2 separate regions of the Homo sapiens genome follow, and region 1 is linked to region 2. The links come from fine-mapping of genetic effects on gene expression. A gene starts in region 2. The other region holds a variant in brackets. All regions are shown on one strand. Distances are between the middles of the regions.

The links. PIP is the estimated chance that this variant, and not a neighbour inherited with it, causes the effect.
Region 1: its variant is fine-mapped to the expression of AKAP1 in subcutaneous fat (TwinsUK, PIP 0.95).

Annotation. Positions count from the first base shown.
Region 1 is chr17:57,106,171-57,114,944 of GRCh38, reverse strand. AKAP1 (A-kinase anchoring protein 1) reads right to left here. Exons shown (of 11, transcript NM_003488.4): 2 at 7,767-8,774; 3 at 4,787-4,920; 4 at 3,021-3,147; 5 at 2,327-2,454; 6 at 309-486. Among named protein-coding and RNA genes, the nearest start is that of AKAP1, 25 kb to the right of the region's middle. RefSeq lists a silencer at 583-877 and an enhancer at 5,475-6,076. The variant G/C (reference allele first, on the strand shown) is at 3,933.
Region 2 is chr17:57,080,813-57,089,616 of GRCh38, reverse strand. AKAP1 (A-kinase anchoring protein 1) reads right to left here and starts at 4,371. Exons shown (of 11, transcript NM_003488.4): 1 at 4,219-4,371. It overlaps AKAP1-DT (AKAP1 divergent transcript), which reads left to right and starts at 4,579. Exons shown (of 3, transcript NR_186437.1): 1 at 4,579-4,777. RefSeq lists silencers at 3,325-3,414, 3,695-3,994, 4,035-4,614 and enhancers at 3,293-3,795, 4,835-4,914.

The DNA.
Region 1 (8,774 bases), 25 kb before region 2:
GGTGGCAGATACTATGACACTGGCTTTGAGGGAAAAAAAAAAGAAAAAATTAAAAAAAAAAATTAGTGGCAGAGCTGGGATCTGAATCCCTGTGTCAAAACTCTACTCCAACACCCATCACTCTGCCAGCCAGTGGAAACCCCAGCTCTGCCTTGCCAGGAAACCCACCCCAGCTCCATAACAATGGCAAGAATTGAAGGATGCTGCTTCCATGAAGGATCGCAGAACAGCCTCCTCCTGATCAGGATCCAGGGCAGAACAGGCAACCCCAGGGGTCCCCCTTCCCGACCCCTCAGGGCACTGCTTACTTTCCACTGGGGTGGGCAAGGTGGGGATTCCAGGCTGAGAGTAACAGAGGTACATCTGCTGGTCGAGGCTGCGCAGCGCGTGGAAGGTAGGGTGTGTGTGCTGCTGCACGAACAGGTGCCCGGCATTGACCTGGTTGACCACAATGACCTCCACGGTGATGCCATCAGGCAGCATGAGCTGTAGAGGGGAAGGGGGAGCGGTCACTGAAACAATCCTTCTTATCTCATCTTTGAATAAGTCCCGAGACCCAAGGGCAAGTCTCTGGGCTAGCATATCTTTGAAAAGGGCAACTCAAGACAACATGGCACCCAGAAGGTAGAGGTTGAAGGACTACTTTAACAACAGAAAGTGTTCGACACCCCTGTGGCTGTTGTCCTGCAATACCACGAGCAGCCATTAGGGGCAGTCTCACCTCAGGGCCAGGCAGGGAGGGTCCCACAGACACTGGGCAACCAAGAAGCAACTGCGGAGGTAGTGCTGGGCCTTGCACAGGCCTGGGCAGGGTCCACCTACCAGCAGTGCCCTCCCTCCCACTTCTGTTGATGAATCTATAAGACCCAGGGAGGGCAACACAGGAATGAGGTGGCCGCTGAGAACAAGACTCCTGAAAATAAGCAGTAGGCAGGCCCCAGGCCCTTTAGCCAACTCCTGTGGACTGGCAGACAACCCCAGGAGCCTATGGTCTGACAGCATCTACGCTGCCCTCCCAAGAGCAAGCAGTGGCCTCAGGTCAGGTCCATGGTCAAGGTCTAGCAGAGTCTGCTTCCTATTTGCTCTCCCTCCTACTGCTTACCCTCCTGAGGTCAGGAGTTCAAGACCAGCCTGGCAAACATGGTGAAATCCCATCTCTACTAAAAACATACAAATTAGCTGGGCATGGTGGAGCACACCTGTAATCCCAGCTACTCAGGAGGCTGGGGCAGGATAATCGTTTGAACCTGGTGGGCAGAGGTTGCAGTGAGCCAAGATCATGCCACTACACTCCAGACTGGGCAACAGAGTGAGACTCTGTCTCAAAAAAAAAAAAAAAAAAAAAAAAAAGAGAGTGAGTCTACGACCGAGCCTCCTGGGAAAAAACTCTTGATTCAGGAGTAAAGCATAAAGTGGTATTCAGCCTACTCTCACATATCCACAGGAAAAAGATATCCCAATCCTTTCCCTCCAGCCCAAGGGCCTTTGCAAAGGGGAAGACACAAAACTGAAATGCCTACCATCCATAAAAAAACAAAAAAACAAAAAAAAAACACGAAGGAGGACAATTTCCTTGGAGCTATAGTCAGCCCATCTGTCCATCTGTGTAAAACGTAGTCAACAGTCGTTGGCCCACAGAATTCTGCAATTCTACTCCCAGTGAGATAAGACCCAACCAGGGCCAGAGGCACACGGCAGGATATGGGCCACGGCCCTGAGAGACCCTGCAGTCAGCAGCACACAGGGGCCCTGGAGATAGCAGCTCTTCCCTCTGCCAAACTCCTGGGGCAACCTCCCAAGAGTCACTGGACTTCCGGGCCTGGTGGGGAGTATTCATTCTTCTTTGTAATTTAGGCACCTCCTGGGGAGGGGAAGGGGAAGGAGATCCTTCACCAGGGCCACTGTTAAGGCCTGACTCAACCAGAAGAAAGAACAAGCGCCATCCAAACCCATGATTCTAGTCCCACCCAGGTCTCAGGTGGTGAACGGCGACCCTGGACACACCCAATCTCCTGTCCGAACTACACCATCCTTTCTAAGCAAACGCCTAGAAAACTTAAAAGGTGCCCAGGGGGAGAGCCAGGAAAAGTAGTCCTCCCATGTGGGGACCAAGAGGCCTCTGGTTTCCTGCCAGCGCTATCACCACCTAAGCCCTGTCCCCAGAACACAGTCCCATAGCAGAACCGACCAGCAGAGGCCAGAGAAGAGAGGGCGCAGGCACTCATGTGCACTTGGCCTTCTTAGCCTGAGGTCTGGGGAGTTTCTTGTTTGGGGTAGGTTTGGGGGAAAGTGGCAAGAAGTCCGGATCACCCAGTAGCACGCTCACCCAGGATGTCATCGGCAGAGAAGGCAGTGCCAGTGAAGGCAATGGGGGAGCGTAGATATTGGTGAGGTTCAGCTCTTTGAACTTCTTCCCAATCAAGTTCAGCGCTTTGTCTACATGATGTTGAGAGCCTAAATAGCGGATGGGGGCAGGACATACAATCACTGTAAGAGGAAACTCACACCCACACTCACAAAAACACAGCCACAGACCCCACTCCACTGGACTTTGCATAGAGTTCAAGTGCATCTTTGAGGTAACAAAACACTTAAGCTCTGCTTTAGGAAGAAAGGCATCTAAGCCTTTCAAATGATACCTCTGCCATTATGATCCATGCTTTCAATGCAACAGAAGAGGCAGGCAGCTGTGAAAATGCCAAGGGGGAATTGCACACAGGGCACTTCTGCTTTGAGAGAAGCCTTTATGGGGTGGTGGGCACTATGAACCCAGGACCCAGGCCCCGCCCAACCAAGCACCCACACTTCTCCTGGCCAAAGATCAGAGTAGGGAGGGACCTGAGTCTCCCGCAGGCACCTGAAATGGGGAAAAGGCTGCAGGGAAGATACCTAATGCTCCCTTCCCTGGGATGAGAAGCAGGGTTTCCTATTCCAAAAAGATAGCAATTGAAACTCAGATGCTATTCACTTCTATTTAATATTTCAGGTAAGAGGCAATACAAGCAGCAGATGTTACTGACCTTCTATGTGGCAGATCTGGACGCTCTGGGTGTAAGGCAGGGTTGAAATGTAGATCTTGGCACCAGATGTTTGCTTCAGAAAACTCACATAGCGCCCCTGCTTGCCAATTAGCCGACCGACTAAGTGCTTCCAGAAAGACAAAAAGAGATGAGAGGGTTAAAGGGAAACCAATTCCCTGGACACCCAAAGACCTACTTCTGTTTTACACAAGATCATGCTCAAACATATTAGCTGTTACCATGTCAGCATTTATTTTCCAGGACTATTCTAAGCACTTACATTTACTCATAGTACCTGTGAAACACAGATAACTTTATCACCATTCTGTATATGGGGAAACAAGCCCAGAGAGGCTAAGTAACTACCTTAAGGTCACACAGCTGCTAACCAGGAAGTCGAACCAGGCAGTCTGGCTCCAGGACCAAGCAGTTCCCATTTCATCCCAACAATGTGGCCCAGACCCGGAAAGCTGCAAAGGCAGCAGCATCTTCTCCTCTAAAAGCCATGCTGAGAAGTTTCACCAGCACACAGTTTCTCGATTTCTCGTGCCCCTCTCCCTCAAGTCTACTCAGATCCAAAGATAAAGGGGCTCGATTTGAAAATGAAGGTCTAAGAACCCTGGGCTCCCGCTGCCAAGTGACAGCAGGCTGAAGCCTGCAGAGCAGGAGGCATGCAGAAGTGCCCAGTGCGCCAGAGTTCAAGGCAGATAGAAGCAGCCAAACTTAGCCCTTACGTAAGATGGGCTCCCACACAACCGCCAACGACCCCCTCCCGGAGGAGCTACTGGGGACATGGTCCATCCTCAGGCACAGCCTTTCTCTTCATGCCCTTTGTAACCACTGAAGGAAAAGCAGGCAGGACGGATAACAGGGCCCCCCAGGGAGGAAACCACCAAGAGACCTCGCAACCCA[G/C]GGTCAAAACAGCCACTCTGACCCAGAGTTCAGACCAAGCCAAGTCTCCACCTGAGCACAGAGCCCAGGGCCCTGGGAGAATGCGGTCTGACAAATTATTTCTGAGCCCCAGAGATAAACATCAAGATCAAGCTAATATGTTGTAAGTTCTAATAGCAAGAAGCTCGAAACCACTTAAGCACTCAGGAATGGGGGACTGATGAAGTAAACTGACATCCACACAGTGAATAATGCAGTTACAGTTACATTTTCAAAGAATAACACACGAAAATTAAATTGTTAAATATTTAAAGTATTAATTAAAGCGACATAATCTCAGTTTTGTTTAAAAACCACAGGGTGCAAGATGAGAAGGAAATAAAAGTCTTTCACAGTCACTCTCAAGGGTAGGATTAGAGCTGATTTTTATTTTCTGCATGTATTTCTATACTTTTCAAGTTCTCTAAAATATGGATTTATGCTTTGCTCAATTATAAAATACACTTGGAGCACTTGAGCAGAGCTCAGTGAAGGGATTCTGGCTGGCCCCCACGGCCTTGGTGTTTTTTTTCCAAATAGATCTGAGCCCCAGAATATGCAAGAACCACCCCCAAGGGAGACACACAGGCCTGCGAGTTTGAGAAGTACAAGAATAAGATGCTCCTGGAGGCAGCTGGAGGAATTCCATGTTGCAGGAAGCTCTCTGAGCCTTGGCAAAGTGTAGCGTGTCCTTTCCCTGCGGCCTTTGGCTGACCCAGGGCTCCTTCTGGTTTACTGTCCCTCTCCCAGCCCCCTCCCTCCCTGAGGTCTAATGGCCCTGGCCCCAGGGAGCTTTGGGCTTACCACAGAACCAGCCTGGGGGACTCCGCCCCTACCTTTGGCACCTCGATCTCCCAGATGATGAGGTCGACCTTCTTAGGGTTGGAGCCTGCCTGGGCATTTTGGAAGCTCTCAGTCTTCTTGAGACTGCAACAGCTATCCACGGAATCCATGCTGTTCCTGTCAGAACCTGCAGGGGAAGAAGCAGCAGGCACGCACACACACAGACCCCACTCAGAGCAGCCAGTAACCAAGAACTTCCCAAACTCACATTCCCAGGAGGCCCTGCCCCACACCCGCTCCTCAAGCTTGGCAGGTGACTGTCAACTTACAGTCTAGAAGGCTCAGAACAACCCCAATGAAAGGAGAACTGGGGGTGTCGATACACCTAATTTTAGCCTGTCACTTACAGTCCCACTTGCTTAATTGGCAGCCGCACCCAGCCACAGCTGCTGGAGCAGAGACACAAGTGGTGAACTTGGAAGAGACAGACTGCGCCCAGGGAAGGGGAGCCCAGAGGGCGGGGGAGGAGACACGCTTGAGGTCCACATGGTCCTGAGAGCCAGACCGATGGACCACAAACACCTTGACACCCTTCCAACTATCCTACCCCCTCAGACCAAGGGTCAGTCTCCTGTCCCCAGGGCCCAGTCCCAGGGTCATAGGTACTGGCCTTCAGCCCAGCAGAGCTAGACAAAGTCCTCACTGGCCTGCCTGAGGGCCCCATTCTTATACCTAGCGGGGACCCGCTCGTTCCTCTGCCATATGTGGACTAAAAAAGGAGAGTCTCCTTTCCCTTTGCTTAGGCCTGATTCATGCAACTCTGAACACTCTTCTGGCTCAAATACTCCCTTGGTCAAAAGACTGAGCCAAAGCTCATGCCCAAGAAAACCCAATGGGAACAGACTCTGCTCCCGACCTGGGCTGTTCCACTCTCACTCAAGAGCGTGCCAAAGGGACCGTCACAAAAAAGCGGGTCCAGATCAGCTCAAGAGAAGTGGCCCTGGCTTAAATATGGATGACTCAATCACCAGAAATAGATCACTCCTGAGAGTCTACCAATTAGGTTACCTTCCACATGGTTTCTCCAAACCCTGAGTATAATCCTTTGCCAAGTAACCCATACACTGGATGCAGAGAACTAAGGCCCAAGAGATCCTGCTCCCAGCTAAGGAAGAATCACCTTCAAAATGACTTCCCCCCTTAACACTAGGCGCTTCGAACAGGATTCATGCAGGGAAAAGTACCCCTTCTGGGGGAAGACTGCTTGGCTAGCCTGCGGGAAGCATAACAGGCTGACAGGGGCTGGGCGAGGGGGCGGGGAGCTCTGCTCACTCACAGTATCCAGCCTCTGCCCCACAGAATGGGACTGGCTAACACCTGCCATCCCGATGGCTCCCAGCAGTGGCTCAGAACCACACCCGGACTCTAGCAGGCTGCACTCAAAGGCCAGCTTCCAGCTCCCTCAGTGGGGTGGTCCCTGGTCCCCTTCTCAGCTTCAACTTCCTCACAAACAAAGCAGGGCTGACATGAAGGTACATGCGAGGCACTAACCTCGTGCTTGGCACCCACCGCATGCTCGTGGACAGTATTACCTCATTTCCACGTGCCATCCCTAAACCTCCCTGCCCATCACCACGGCTTAGGTTCAAGCCTAAACTCAGAAGACTTCAACAGGTCTGAGTAGCTACTACTATCCATCTAGAGTTGGCAGACAAGGCTGCGGGGCTTGTTAATTCAGCTGAGGGGCAGTAAGCAAAGGGAAACTCCTTTATTCTTAAAAAATAAATAAAATAAAAATCACCCATTTTCAGATGCAGTATTTTAAGAAACATTTAAACATCCCGAGATTAGGATGCATCATATAGTATCTTGCCTTCTATAATCATGACTGGCAGCACTTTTTTCTTTCCAAGGTACATAAAAACAGTAGTGTCTTAACAGCATCTTGGAGGTGACAAAATGTAGCGTGTGGTACAAACTAGATGCTGCTGAAAGTGGTAAAATTCCCAATAAAGATTCCCAACCTACCCGGAGCTGAAATGGGAGGGAATGGCTCCAGGACAAACAAGTCAGAGAGCCACTCGGGATATTCGTGGCCTCTCTCCATGAGATAAATGAAAACACCCCAGGGTGCCTGCAGAAGCAGGGTCAGGAGCTGCTGACCTGTAAGTTAGCGGTCTGAACTGTCTACGCTGGGGTCAGCACTCGAAAAACCCAGGACACCTCGTTATCAAAGTGCCCCGCTTTCCCGGGGGTGGAGCTGCAACTGCACAGAAAGAAAATGGCTGAGGCTTTCTGCAAAGGTGACAGCGACAACTCAGGAAGCTCAAGCCTCCCACAAGTATTCAAAGCTGTGGCCGTTCTTTGGGCACTTACCCTGTAAGAGCTTCTGGAGAAGGAAAGCAGGTGAAGACATGGGAACAAGCACATGATTAAAAGGAAATAAAAACCATTCAAAACACTCACACCCATACCTGGCACTCAAGGGAAGTAAAGCTAAGGAGGCCTCTCCATTAAAACACACACACACACGCACACACAAAGAGGTTAGTGTTTAAAAAAGAAAAAAAAATGGGCTGGGCATAGTGACTCACACCTATAAACCCAGCACTCTGGGAGGCCGAGGGCGGAAGGATCACTTGAGCCCAGGAGTGCGAGACCAGCCTGGGCAACAAAGGAAGACTCCATCTGCACCAAAATAATAATAATTTTTTTAAACAAAGAAAAAGAGGCACACTAATGTTAATCAGCGAGCCCAACTTGGCGCTAGTTCCTTGGGAAGGGCTCACTGGGGAAGGTCACCGGTTGAGGAACCAAGTTACAGCTCCCATGACTTGGGGTTTCAGGGCAATCTAACTCCTCAGTTACCCACCAGCTCTACGCCGTGTCCAGACCTCTGCAGGTTGCGATAAAGAGCTGAAGAGCACTATGACTTTGCTGCACAAGTAGCAGAAGGGAGAGGCAGACTGGCAGCCTTTCTCCAAGAAATACTGGGAGCGCCCCATCCTCTAAACGAACCCGAGACCCTCCTACCTCCTGAATGATCTGCTTCCGCATCCATGGTCCATCCATCCTCAGCCCCCAAGTCTGACAACTCCCCCTTCAGCACCCCATTGCTGAAGGGCACAGTACTTTCTGGCAGTGGCGGGGTGATGGCCTTGTCCCTGGGGCTCGAGCTGGTCTCTGTGCAAGAGTCTTCAAGCCCTGAAGTGCTGAAAGAATCTGAGCAGTGTCCTGGAGAAGCCACCAAAGGGACACTTTGGCTGCTGTCTGACATGCAGGTGACACAGGTGGCATCTTCCACCAGGATGCCTGCCCGGTCCGGCAACTCTTCACTGGGGGTGGTCAGTGCCAGGCAGGAGGCCAGGGAGATGTGGTGTGCAGAGATATTTGGCTTACTGTCCTTGGTGGGGCTGGACAGAAGGCTCTTCAGGCAGCTCACGTAGGTCTTTGGTGGTGGTGAGCCCTCTGCTGGTAGGCCTGGCAAGGGGAGGCCAGCATCCGGCGGGGCAACAGCTGCCTCTGCTGTGGCAGGCTCCGCAGTGTCTGGGCCCAAGACAGTTTTCTGGTGAACTGGGACACAGCTCTCTTCCTTCTGCCCTTGGAGCTGACTGGCCTGACACACACGACCTGCAACCTTGCCAACCGTGGTGGCCAGCACCTGTTCGGTTGCTTCTGAGATCACTTGGGAGATTATCTGGAAGGCAGCCCGCTTAATCTCCTCATTTCTATCCAAGCCCTCCTCATTTCTATCCAAGCTCTCCTCATTTCTATCCAAGCCCTCCTCATTTCTATCCAAGCCCTCCTCATTTCTATCCAAGCTCTCCTCATTGCCCAGTTCTCCCTCGACACCTCTATCCTGGGCTTTGGCGTCTGCGACTGGGGGTGCTGGCGCCGCATCGTCCTTTGCCAGCTCTGTGTGAGCCGACTCGATGAACCTACTTGGCAACTTCTCTGCTACATACTCTTCCTCCTGCACTGGCCCCACCACCTGGGATGAGCTGCTCTTCCCCTTATCTTCTTCCCCCTCTAAAGAGGCCA
Region 2 (8,804 bases):
AAAAAACTTTCTAGGCCGGCGCTGTCCAACAAAACTTTCTTCGATTATGGAAAATGTTCTTGACCTGTACTGACCAGGACGGCAGCCACTAGCTACACGAGGCCACTGAGAACCTGAAATGTGGCTAATGTCACTAAGAAATTTTTTTAAAAATACTTTGAAAAGTTTAATTAGTCACACAGCTAGCAGCTACCCTACAGACAAGGCAGCTCTAAACTCCCCACACCCAGGACAAATTTAGGCAAATAAAGCTATCTTTAAAAATAAAAAATATTTAGAACAGTAGCACACCTTAGAGCTAAGAACTTGAGATGAACAGTGAGTTGTTTTTTTTCCCCTTAAGTCTTTGACATGTACTACCCATTGAGCTGTGCTCCCCAGCCCAAACACATCACTCCAGTGGCCCCTGGGCACGTTTGGTCTAACTCCAAGGCTCCCAGGACCATAATCTGAATACTGATAATTTTGACCAAACCTCTTTTAGCCACTGAATAAACCAAGATCTGGAAGGCCAACCAGCCTGCCTAGAATCACCGCCAGGTTTCAGCTCTGAGAGCTGCAGCAAGTCCCAGGCTCTTGTCAGCTAAGCCCAGCAGTGAAACAAGCCTCATCAGCCCTAGGTTATACATATTTTTACTTCCAGGACTCACCTCAGGGCCCTTCTTTGCTCCCAAGTGCAACTGGGCCTTAGTGACACCTGGCTCGGTGAACACAACCAGCCACCATTACAGAACAGGGAACACAATGTTTACCACTGACTGCTGCAAACTATCAAACCAAGCCGGAAAAACAACCAGATGGTGAAGACCCGGACAGAATGTGGACAAGGCTGCACCATTTAGTAAAATGAAAAAGTTAAGGCAAAGGACACCTTGAAAGCTATTTATTGCTGGAAAGCTAGTTCTCAGAATGCTGAATGATAACACACACAATGTTAACAATCTACTTAGAAAGCAGCAGAAAGATTAGGAGAAAAGCCCAGGGATTTAAGAATATTCCTTGGTTCTTCTCACAAAAGCCATCCAGAGGACCTAGTTTTAACTCCACACCCACGCTTCCTAGTTCCTCTACCCCTCAATTTGAATTTGTGTGACAGCCACTGAAACAATCCAGAATGACCTCCAGCTTCACCCTCACTGTTCTCAGAGGTGTGAGGATTAAAGGATTAGTGTGCTCATAACTCACCTAGCACAGTAACTATCAAGAAAGAGGCATCCTCTCAAGTTTAGCTCCCAGCTCCCCCACTACCTGTTTCTCCAGCCAGACTCTGTCCTACTTCAAACATGCTCACTGATGATGTTTTCCACAGCCCAAGCTTCAAATTAGGTACCAAGGCCAGGAGGTTCCTTCAGTGGGATGCCACATGTGATGGGAACTTAATGTTAAATGATCATAAAAGTGAAAACTGCCTGAGGTATTACACCAGGAAGGAACATGGAAGAAACAGAACTTGCCCTAAGAAGCAAGATTTAGGACTAAAATACACCCCCCACCATAAAGATGAGCAACTCTCAAACAGTATATGAGATGATTTCAATGGGACAAGATGCCCACAGGATCTACTACCTCCCCATAGTGGAAGAAAACGCCTGAGAATGACAAGCTGAAGGTATTAACTCATACCTGAAACAACTGACTTCCCCACAATAGGAAAACAGACCAAGCTACAGAAAGGCCCAATCATTCAGACTCACAGGGAAGATTAGGAAGGAGTGACCTAGGGGAACTCTACGGCCAGCTCTCTGGGTACATTGGCTACAAGCTGCCTGCTCTTCAAAGCCCTGAAATGCACACACAATCAAGTCATGTTGCAGGCTGGGAGCAGGAGGCTAGCCAGCAAAGCTTAGGGAAACCAATTCGTTTTTCCTCCCAAACAAGCTTCTGGGTCAGAGGCTAAGGAGAGGGGTGCTTTTAATAGAATTCAAGTCACTCAAGTAATTCAAGAGAAACAAAGTCAGTCTCAGGGATTGTTCAGGGAGGAGAGGGGAAGAGCAATGCTTAAGCACCTATCACAGTCCCCAGTATCACAAATATGATCTCCATTTGTCTTTAGGACAGGAAAAGGGAATACTGTAGAGGCTAACACCAGCCTTCCCCTAAAATATGGCTGCAACCCAGCCTATGTCCAAAGCTCAAGAATAATTTGGGTTACCAGGCAGCAAGATAAATTGCTTTTAAATATTGATGTTCAGCAACCTTACACTGGAGACATATCGACTTCAGCACCTGAGCAGGCCACTTACAACAGACACCTCCACTGTCACCCTGCAGTGGCCAAGTGAGAATGCATTTCCTAGAAACAACTGGGAGATGGGAGAGATATTCCTACAAGGAACTAGACCTAGACACAAATCCATTAGACCTGTCTCACTCATTGGCTAGGATCTGTTACCTGCAAGTTCTGAGCCATCATCTGACAACATGCATGAAGACAGAGCCTATTAATCCAGTAATGGACTCAAGCTTTAGTGATTTGCATGCCTGTAGGATCCAGAGGACCTCCTCTAACCTAGGGCCATATTTCAAAGAGAATACACCCAAGAATTATGCAGAACCTACAAAACTAGTTAGAGGTTAAAGAAAAGTTCAACACAAGTCAAAAGGTTCCCAAAACATAACTTCACTTGCTTCCAGTGCTCAGGGTCTTAAATAATCAGCAGGTGAACCACTTCAATGCCAAGATCAGAGGAATTATATAAATGATCAAGTCAGGCAGCCTTCTTCATTTCAAAGATGTTCTGTACCTTTAAGAGCAAAGTGGATGGGTGGTGCTAAGAGTCCAAGCTTTGCTTTCTAAATAAAGAGTTAAAAAAAAAAAAGGTACTAATTTGGGAAGGACTTAGCAGTTACAAGAGCTTGTAAGGCTACTAGTTGCCAGAATTAATAGCTTTTTGTGAACGGTGTTCCTTGATCAGTAACTAACAGATACTGTTGCACCAGGTCCAGCAGCCTAGATTTCACTGGAGACAAATCTAAACACGAAGTAACGCGCACTACAGTAGGGGAAAGATACCCAGGTTAACCTCACTAATTGCCCTGCGCATACACCCTACCCAGCTTGAGAGGCCTCGACTCGCACCTGGAGCGAAGTCCACCGGGTTTGTGTTAACGGCGGCAGGAAGGCGCCGCCACCCAGGACATCCCCCAGGAGAGGAAGATCCCGAAACGCCCAGGGCTCCCATGCCGTTCCGAGTCGCCACAGCACCGCCTACCACGATCAGCACCTTTCTTCTCCTATCCCTCCCTGGAAGGGAAACAGGAAGACCTTCAGCTAGGGCACAAAAGAGTTGAACGCCAGAAAGCCCGCGTTCGAGGCATCCAGCCACTGCCTCTCCTAGCACATCGTAACCCCAAAACTGGCGCGGTCCCTCCAGATCGCAGACCCCGGGCCCTGGGCCGCAGGCGGGGCCGGACACGTGACCGTCGGGGCCCCCGGGCGTGAGGTCGGCAGACACCCCAGGCTGGACGGCCTCCACCCCTCCGGACACGCCTGCAGGGGCTACGAATGCAAATTCCCCCCGAGACGCCCCTGAGCCTCCGACCTCCAGACCCCAATTCGGTTCGAACGGTCCCTCAGCCCGAAACACGGTTGGATCACAACCGGCCGATGTCCCGGCCCATCTTCCCAGTTCCCCTGGCTCGCCGCACGGAACTCCCAGGGGCTGCGCCGGCGGGCGAGCCGAGGGTGAGAAGTTGGGCGAGGCTCCAGAAGTGAAGGGGCAGCTCCGGCTCAGACTGTGTACACACGACCTTTGAAAAGTAAACGCCCGCGGGGCTGGGCGACCTTGGGTGGGACGCGCTCGGGTCAGCCTCGCAGGCGGGTGTGCACGCTCCGGTTAAGTTGAGGTGCAGAGAGGCGACCCGGGCGTCGCGCCCTCGCCCCCCGCCCCCGAGGACAGTGACGCGCGTGGGGAGGACGGCGCGGCCGCAGAGCGCCGCCCAGAGCCGCGCACACGCGATCTGTCAGGAGCCCGCGGGCAGACAACCGGCGGGGAAGGACGAGAGGGGGCGCAGACGAGGGAGGGAAAGATGGGCCTGCCTGACAGCGCGCGGCGGCCGAGAGCCCCCAGGACACCTCTGCGTCCGGAGCGTCCCGCCCCCGGGGTACCTGGAGGGCGCGTCGCACCCTGCACCTGCACCTCAGGCTCCCCATCGCCCCGACCCCGCCGCCTTCGGGTCTCCGGCAGGGGGTCCCCGGCGCAGCTGCCCCCGACCTACCAGCTCCTCGGCTACCATCGGGGTGCGGGATGCGGAGTCCGCGCGCCGCCGCCGGCCCCCGGCTGTGCCCCGCGGCCCGGCCCGCAGCGCCGCGCTTCCGCAGCTCCCCCACGTGCTAGCCCAGGCGGGTGGAACACAGAGACATTAAATACTGAAGACGCGCGGCGACGTGCCCGCAGCGCGACGCAGGCCCCGCCCCTCGCCCTTGTGCCCGCGCGCTCCCGAGCCCGCCCCGCTCACCTGCGCGTGCGCGCCGCCGGCCGCTCCCGGCAGTGCCTCCGCCGCGCCTCTCCCAGCTGCGCCAGAGGGGGCGCGGTCTACAGCGCTGGGCTAACATCCCGCCGCCGCCCGGAGCCGGGTCTTGCTCGCGCTCTCGCGAGAGAGCCGTCATCTCTCCGGTGCCCGGGAGAGGGGCCGGGCGGGACGGTACAGCAACCGGAGGAACCTTGATTCCCTGCCCCGCAAGCCCAGCACCGGTTTTGCCGCCTTGTCTCGAAGGGTCAACCAGGCCATCTCCTGCCTCGGGACGGAGAGCGCCCTGGAAAAGGCGGAGGGGCCGGTGAGGAGCAGGGCTTCCCTCGCTTCGGGGCTTTGAGCTTCCCTGTGACCGTCATTTCCTTGTAGCGTATAATTGGGTTGGCCATTAATAATTGCTCGATAACTGCATAATGGTGAAACCTGGTACCACTCAAATGCAACTTTCTTGCTCGTTTTCACAAGTCGATGTTATCGAAATGAAGCACTTTTCTCTGAATTGGTGTGGGTTTTGGAATGATTTTTGCAGAGATAGTCACGGTGAGTCACTATCTCTGCCAGGACCTTGGGAAAATAAATTCCTCCAAAATAAATGGAGAGGGTAGGGTTTTGGCTGTCCAGCCCTGCTGTCATCCTTAAAACAAAGTGACTTTAAATGAACATTTGTTTGGCCAAAATATAGAAAATAGATCATGCTAAGAACTAACAATTACTTGGGAAAATGCTTAATCTTCACTAGTGATCAAATGCAAGTTTAAATGACAGATGCCATTTACTATACCTAATGAGATTTAAGTCAAATTCATATATATATGAATCCCAATTGCATGGTGTGGTAGATGTCAGGAAGGAAACAAATAGGAAACTGACATAGGAAAGAAAGAAAAAGAGCCCTATTTTTTATTTTTTTTTTTTTGTGAGACGGAGTCTTGCTCTGTCGCCCAGGCTGGAGTGCAGTGGCACGATCTCGGCTCACTGCAAGCTCCGCCTCCCAGGTTCACGCCATTCTCCTGCCTCAGCCTCCCGAGTAGCTGGGACTACAGGCGCCTGCCACCACGCCCGGCTAATTTTTTGTATTTTTAGTAGAGATGGGGTTTCACCGTGTTAGCTAGGATGGTTTCGATCTCCTGACGTCGTGATCCGCCCGCCTTGGCCTCCCAAAGTGCTGGGATTACAGGCGTGAGCCACCGCGCCCGGCCAAAAAGAGCCCAAATGTTTTAGGTCCTGTGGTCAGAAAAGGCCTAAAATGAAATTTAAACTGAGACCCATTGGATGAGAAGGAACCAGCCTTGCAAATTGTATACGGGCATAAGGGTTGGAGGAGTATTCCTAGCAGATGCACAACACAGGAAAAAGCAGGAAACAACTTCTGGTAAACTGGAAGACCAGTGTGGATGGTATGTATTGAGGGAGGGAGTGTCAGGAAAGGAGATAAAGAGGATCGTTTCTTGTCTTTGTTTTTTGGGGGAATAGGGGCCTGGGCTGCCTTAGTAAATACTTAGTATTTGCCATAGTAAATAGTGAAGCTTGGATTTTATTCTATTCTGTTCAGTCCCAAAGCCAGTCATGACTCTACCTCAGGGCCTCCCTCCACATGGAATATTCTGCAAAGCTCACTGTCTTCACCTCTTTCAAGTCCTTTGCTCAAAGGTCACCTACTCAGACTCAGTGAAGTCTTCCCTGGACTCTCTGTTTTATTTTATTTTTTATTTTTTGAGGAGTCTCTGTCACCCAGGCTGGAGTGCAGTGGTGCGATCTCAGCTCACTGCAACCTCCACCTACCAGGTTCAAGCGATTCTCCTCCCTCAGCCGCCAGAGTAGTCCCACTACAGGCACGTGGCACCATGCCCAGCTAAAATTTTTTGTATTTTTAGTAGAGACAGGGTTTCACCATGTTGGTCAGGCTGGTCTCATACTCCTAACCTTAGGTGATCTGTCCGCCTCGGCCTCCCAAAGTGCTGGGATTACAGACGTGAGCCACCGTGCCTGGCCTGGACTCTCTTTTAAATTGTAAACACACACACACACACACACACACACACACACACACACTCTCTCTCTCTCTCTCTCTCCCCATCCCTCACCCCATCTTTCCTTCATAACCCTTACCCCTGTCTAGACTTCATTTATTTCATGAGGGCAGGGATTTTTGAGGGCCTGGTACATAGAGGGTGTTCAGTAAAAATGTGTTTCGTGAATGAATAGGAAGCTATTAAAGAGGGTTAAGTAGAGAGTGACATAATTTCTGTTTTTAAAAGCAAGCTGTAGCTGCTGTGGGAAGAACAGATTAGAGAGAGATCAGTGTCGAATCAGGGAGAGTAGTGAAAGAGGATGCTGGACGTGGTTCAGGTAAGAAATGATGCTAGTTTGAGCTAAGGATTATGGCTCTGGGGATGAAGACACTGCTTTGGACTTAAGATATATTTTGAAAGAGGAGCAGACTTACTCATGTTGTTGGTGGTAAAGAAAAAGGAACAATGAATGCAATGAATGATGATTCTTCTGGCTTGAGTTACAATGTGAACTGGGGTGCAATTTCCTGAGAAGGAGAAATCTGAAGGCAGAGAAGTGTTGGTTTCATTTTTGACCCATTGTTTTTGTGACATCAAAGTATAAATAGTAATTAGGTTGGATATGCAAGTCTGGAGCTCAGAGGAGTGGTCTGAATGGGAAATACAAATATGGTTTGAAAATCATGTTTAAAAAGATATATTAAAGACAATGCTAGGCCGGGCACGGTGGCTCACACCTATAATCACAGCACTTTGGGAGGCTGAGGCCGGTGGATCACGAGGTCAGGAGTTCAAGACTAGCCTGGCCAACATGGTGAAATCCTGTCTCTACTAAAAATACAAAAGTTAGCCAGGCATGTTGTGCACCTGTAATCCCAGCTACTCGGGAGGCTGAGGCAGGAGAATCACTTGAACCTGGGGGTCAGAGGTTGCAGTGAGCTGAGATCGCATCACTGCACTCCAGCCTGGGTGACAGAGCAAGATTCCATCTCGGGGAAAAAAAAAAAAAAAAAGGAAAAAAAAAAAAGGCAATGCTTAGCAGTAGTGGAGGTAGGAATAGAAAGAAACTGAGAAAATGATGTCCAGGGATGTAAGCCCTGGAAGCATTGGTAGGAAAGAAAAACAGGAAGATGGAAGGAGTAAAACAGCGAGATGGGGCTATGAATATGGTTATGAGAAAGAAGGACAAAGACCGGCGGTGAATGAGAGAAATATGTCAGTCATACCCGATGCAAGGGGACATGGGCACAGCCTGCCAGAAAAAAGGAATGAGGGAAGAAAAGAGGAGTGTGTTAACTGGAATACTAGAGAAAGTGCAAGATACAAGTCAAAGGGGGAAAGGTGAGAAAATAGGATTGACTACAATCACCATTAGACCTCAACCCAGTACCTGTGGCTGAGGAAGTATCCACAAGGTCTGAACAGTTCCAAGGTCACCACGGTGGCCCTAATATAAGATTAGAAAGTAGAGGAATGAGAAGAGAGGTGAGGGTGGAAGGTGATCCTAAGAACTTGGCCATGAGGAAAATAAGATAAGGTTGTTAGGCTTCAGCTTTGTCAGCTCAAAAATGGGCAAGGTCTGCCTAAGGCAGGAATTTTAACCTAGGATGCATAGGAATTTAACCTGGGACATCAAGGTTGTCCACAACACCCTGAAATCATTTGCATGATCTTATAAATACGGCATTTTTTTCGGTACAGATTAGTTATGGATCATTTCTATCAGACTCTAATCCTGACCTTAACAACAACAACAACAAATTAGAATCTGGTGAATAGAGCAAAACATTTTATCCAGAAAGGAGTATGTCAGTCAGAATAAGAAGGTAAAAAATAAAAGTATTCGAAGGAGACCAAAAAAATAAAAATAAAAATAAAAATAGAAGAAGTAGTAAGTGTCTGTGAAAGGAAGAAGGTGTCCAATCTCATTTAATCAAGAAGCTGGGCTCTCTGAGAAGTCAAACCAGTCAGATCTGAACCCAATGCTATTATTCATTTAAATTCTATGACCCAAGCCCCTCACTCTGACTCTGTACCCACCCAGCAGCCTTCTGATCATTCTCACTAAGGAGAGAAGCCATGATCGGACTGATGAAAGGCACTGGTCCACCAATGACATTTTTATCATTATAAATTACATAACCTACCCTCTCTCATTTTCTGTATCTTGTACATCATGTGAATATTTTTAGTATGAGTCAGCTTTCAGTTCTGGGACTTGAACATGGTGAAGTTTCTGAACCTGTTTTAAAGCTAAGTGAGGGCTTGACACAGGACCATGGGAAAATCCATCAAGGTAAATGCCACCTTGTGAGTCTC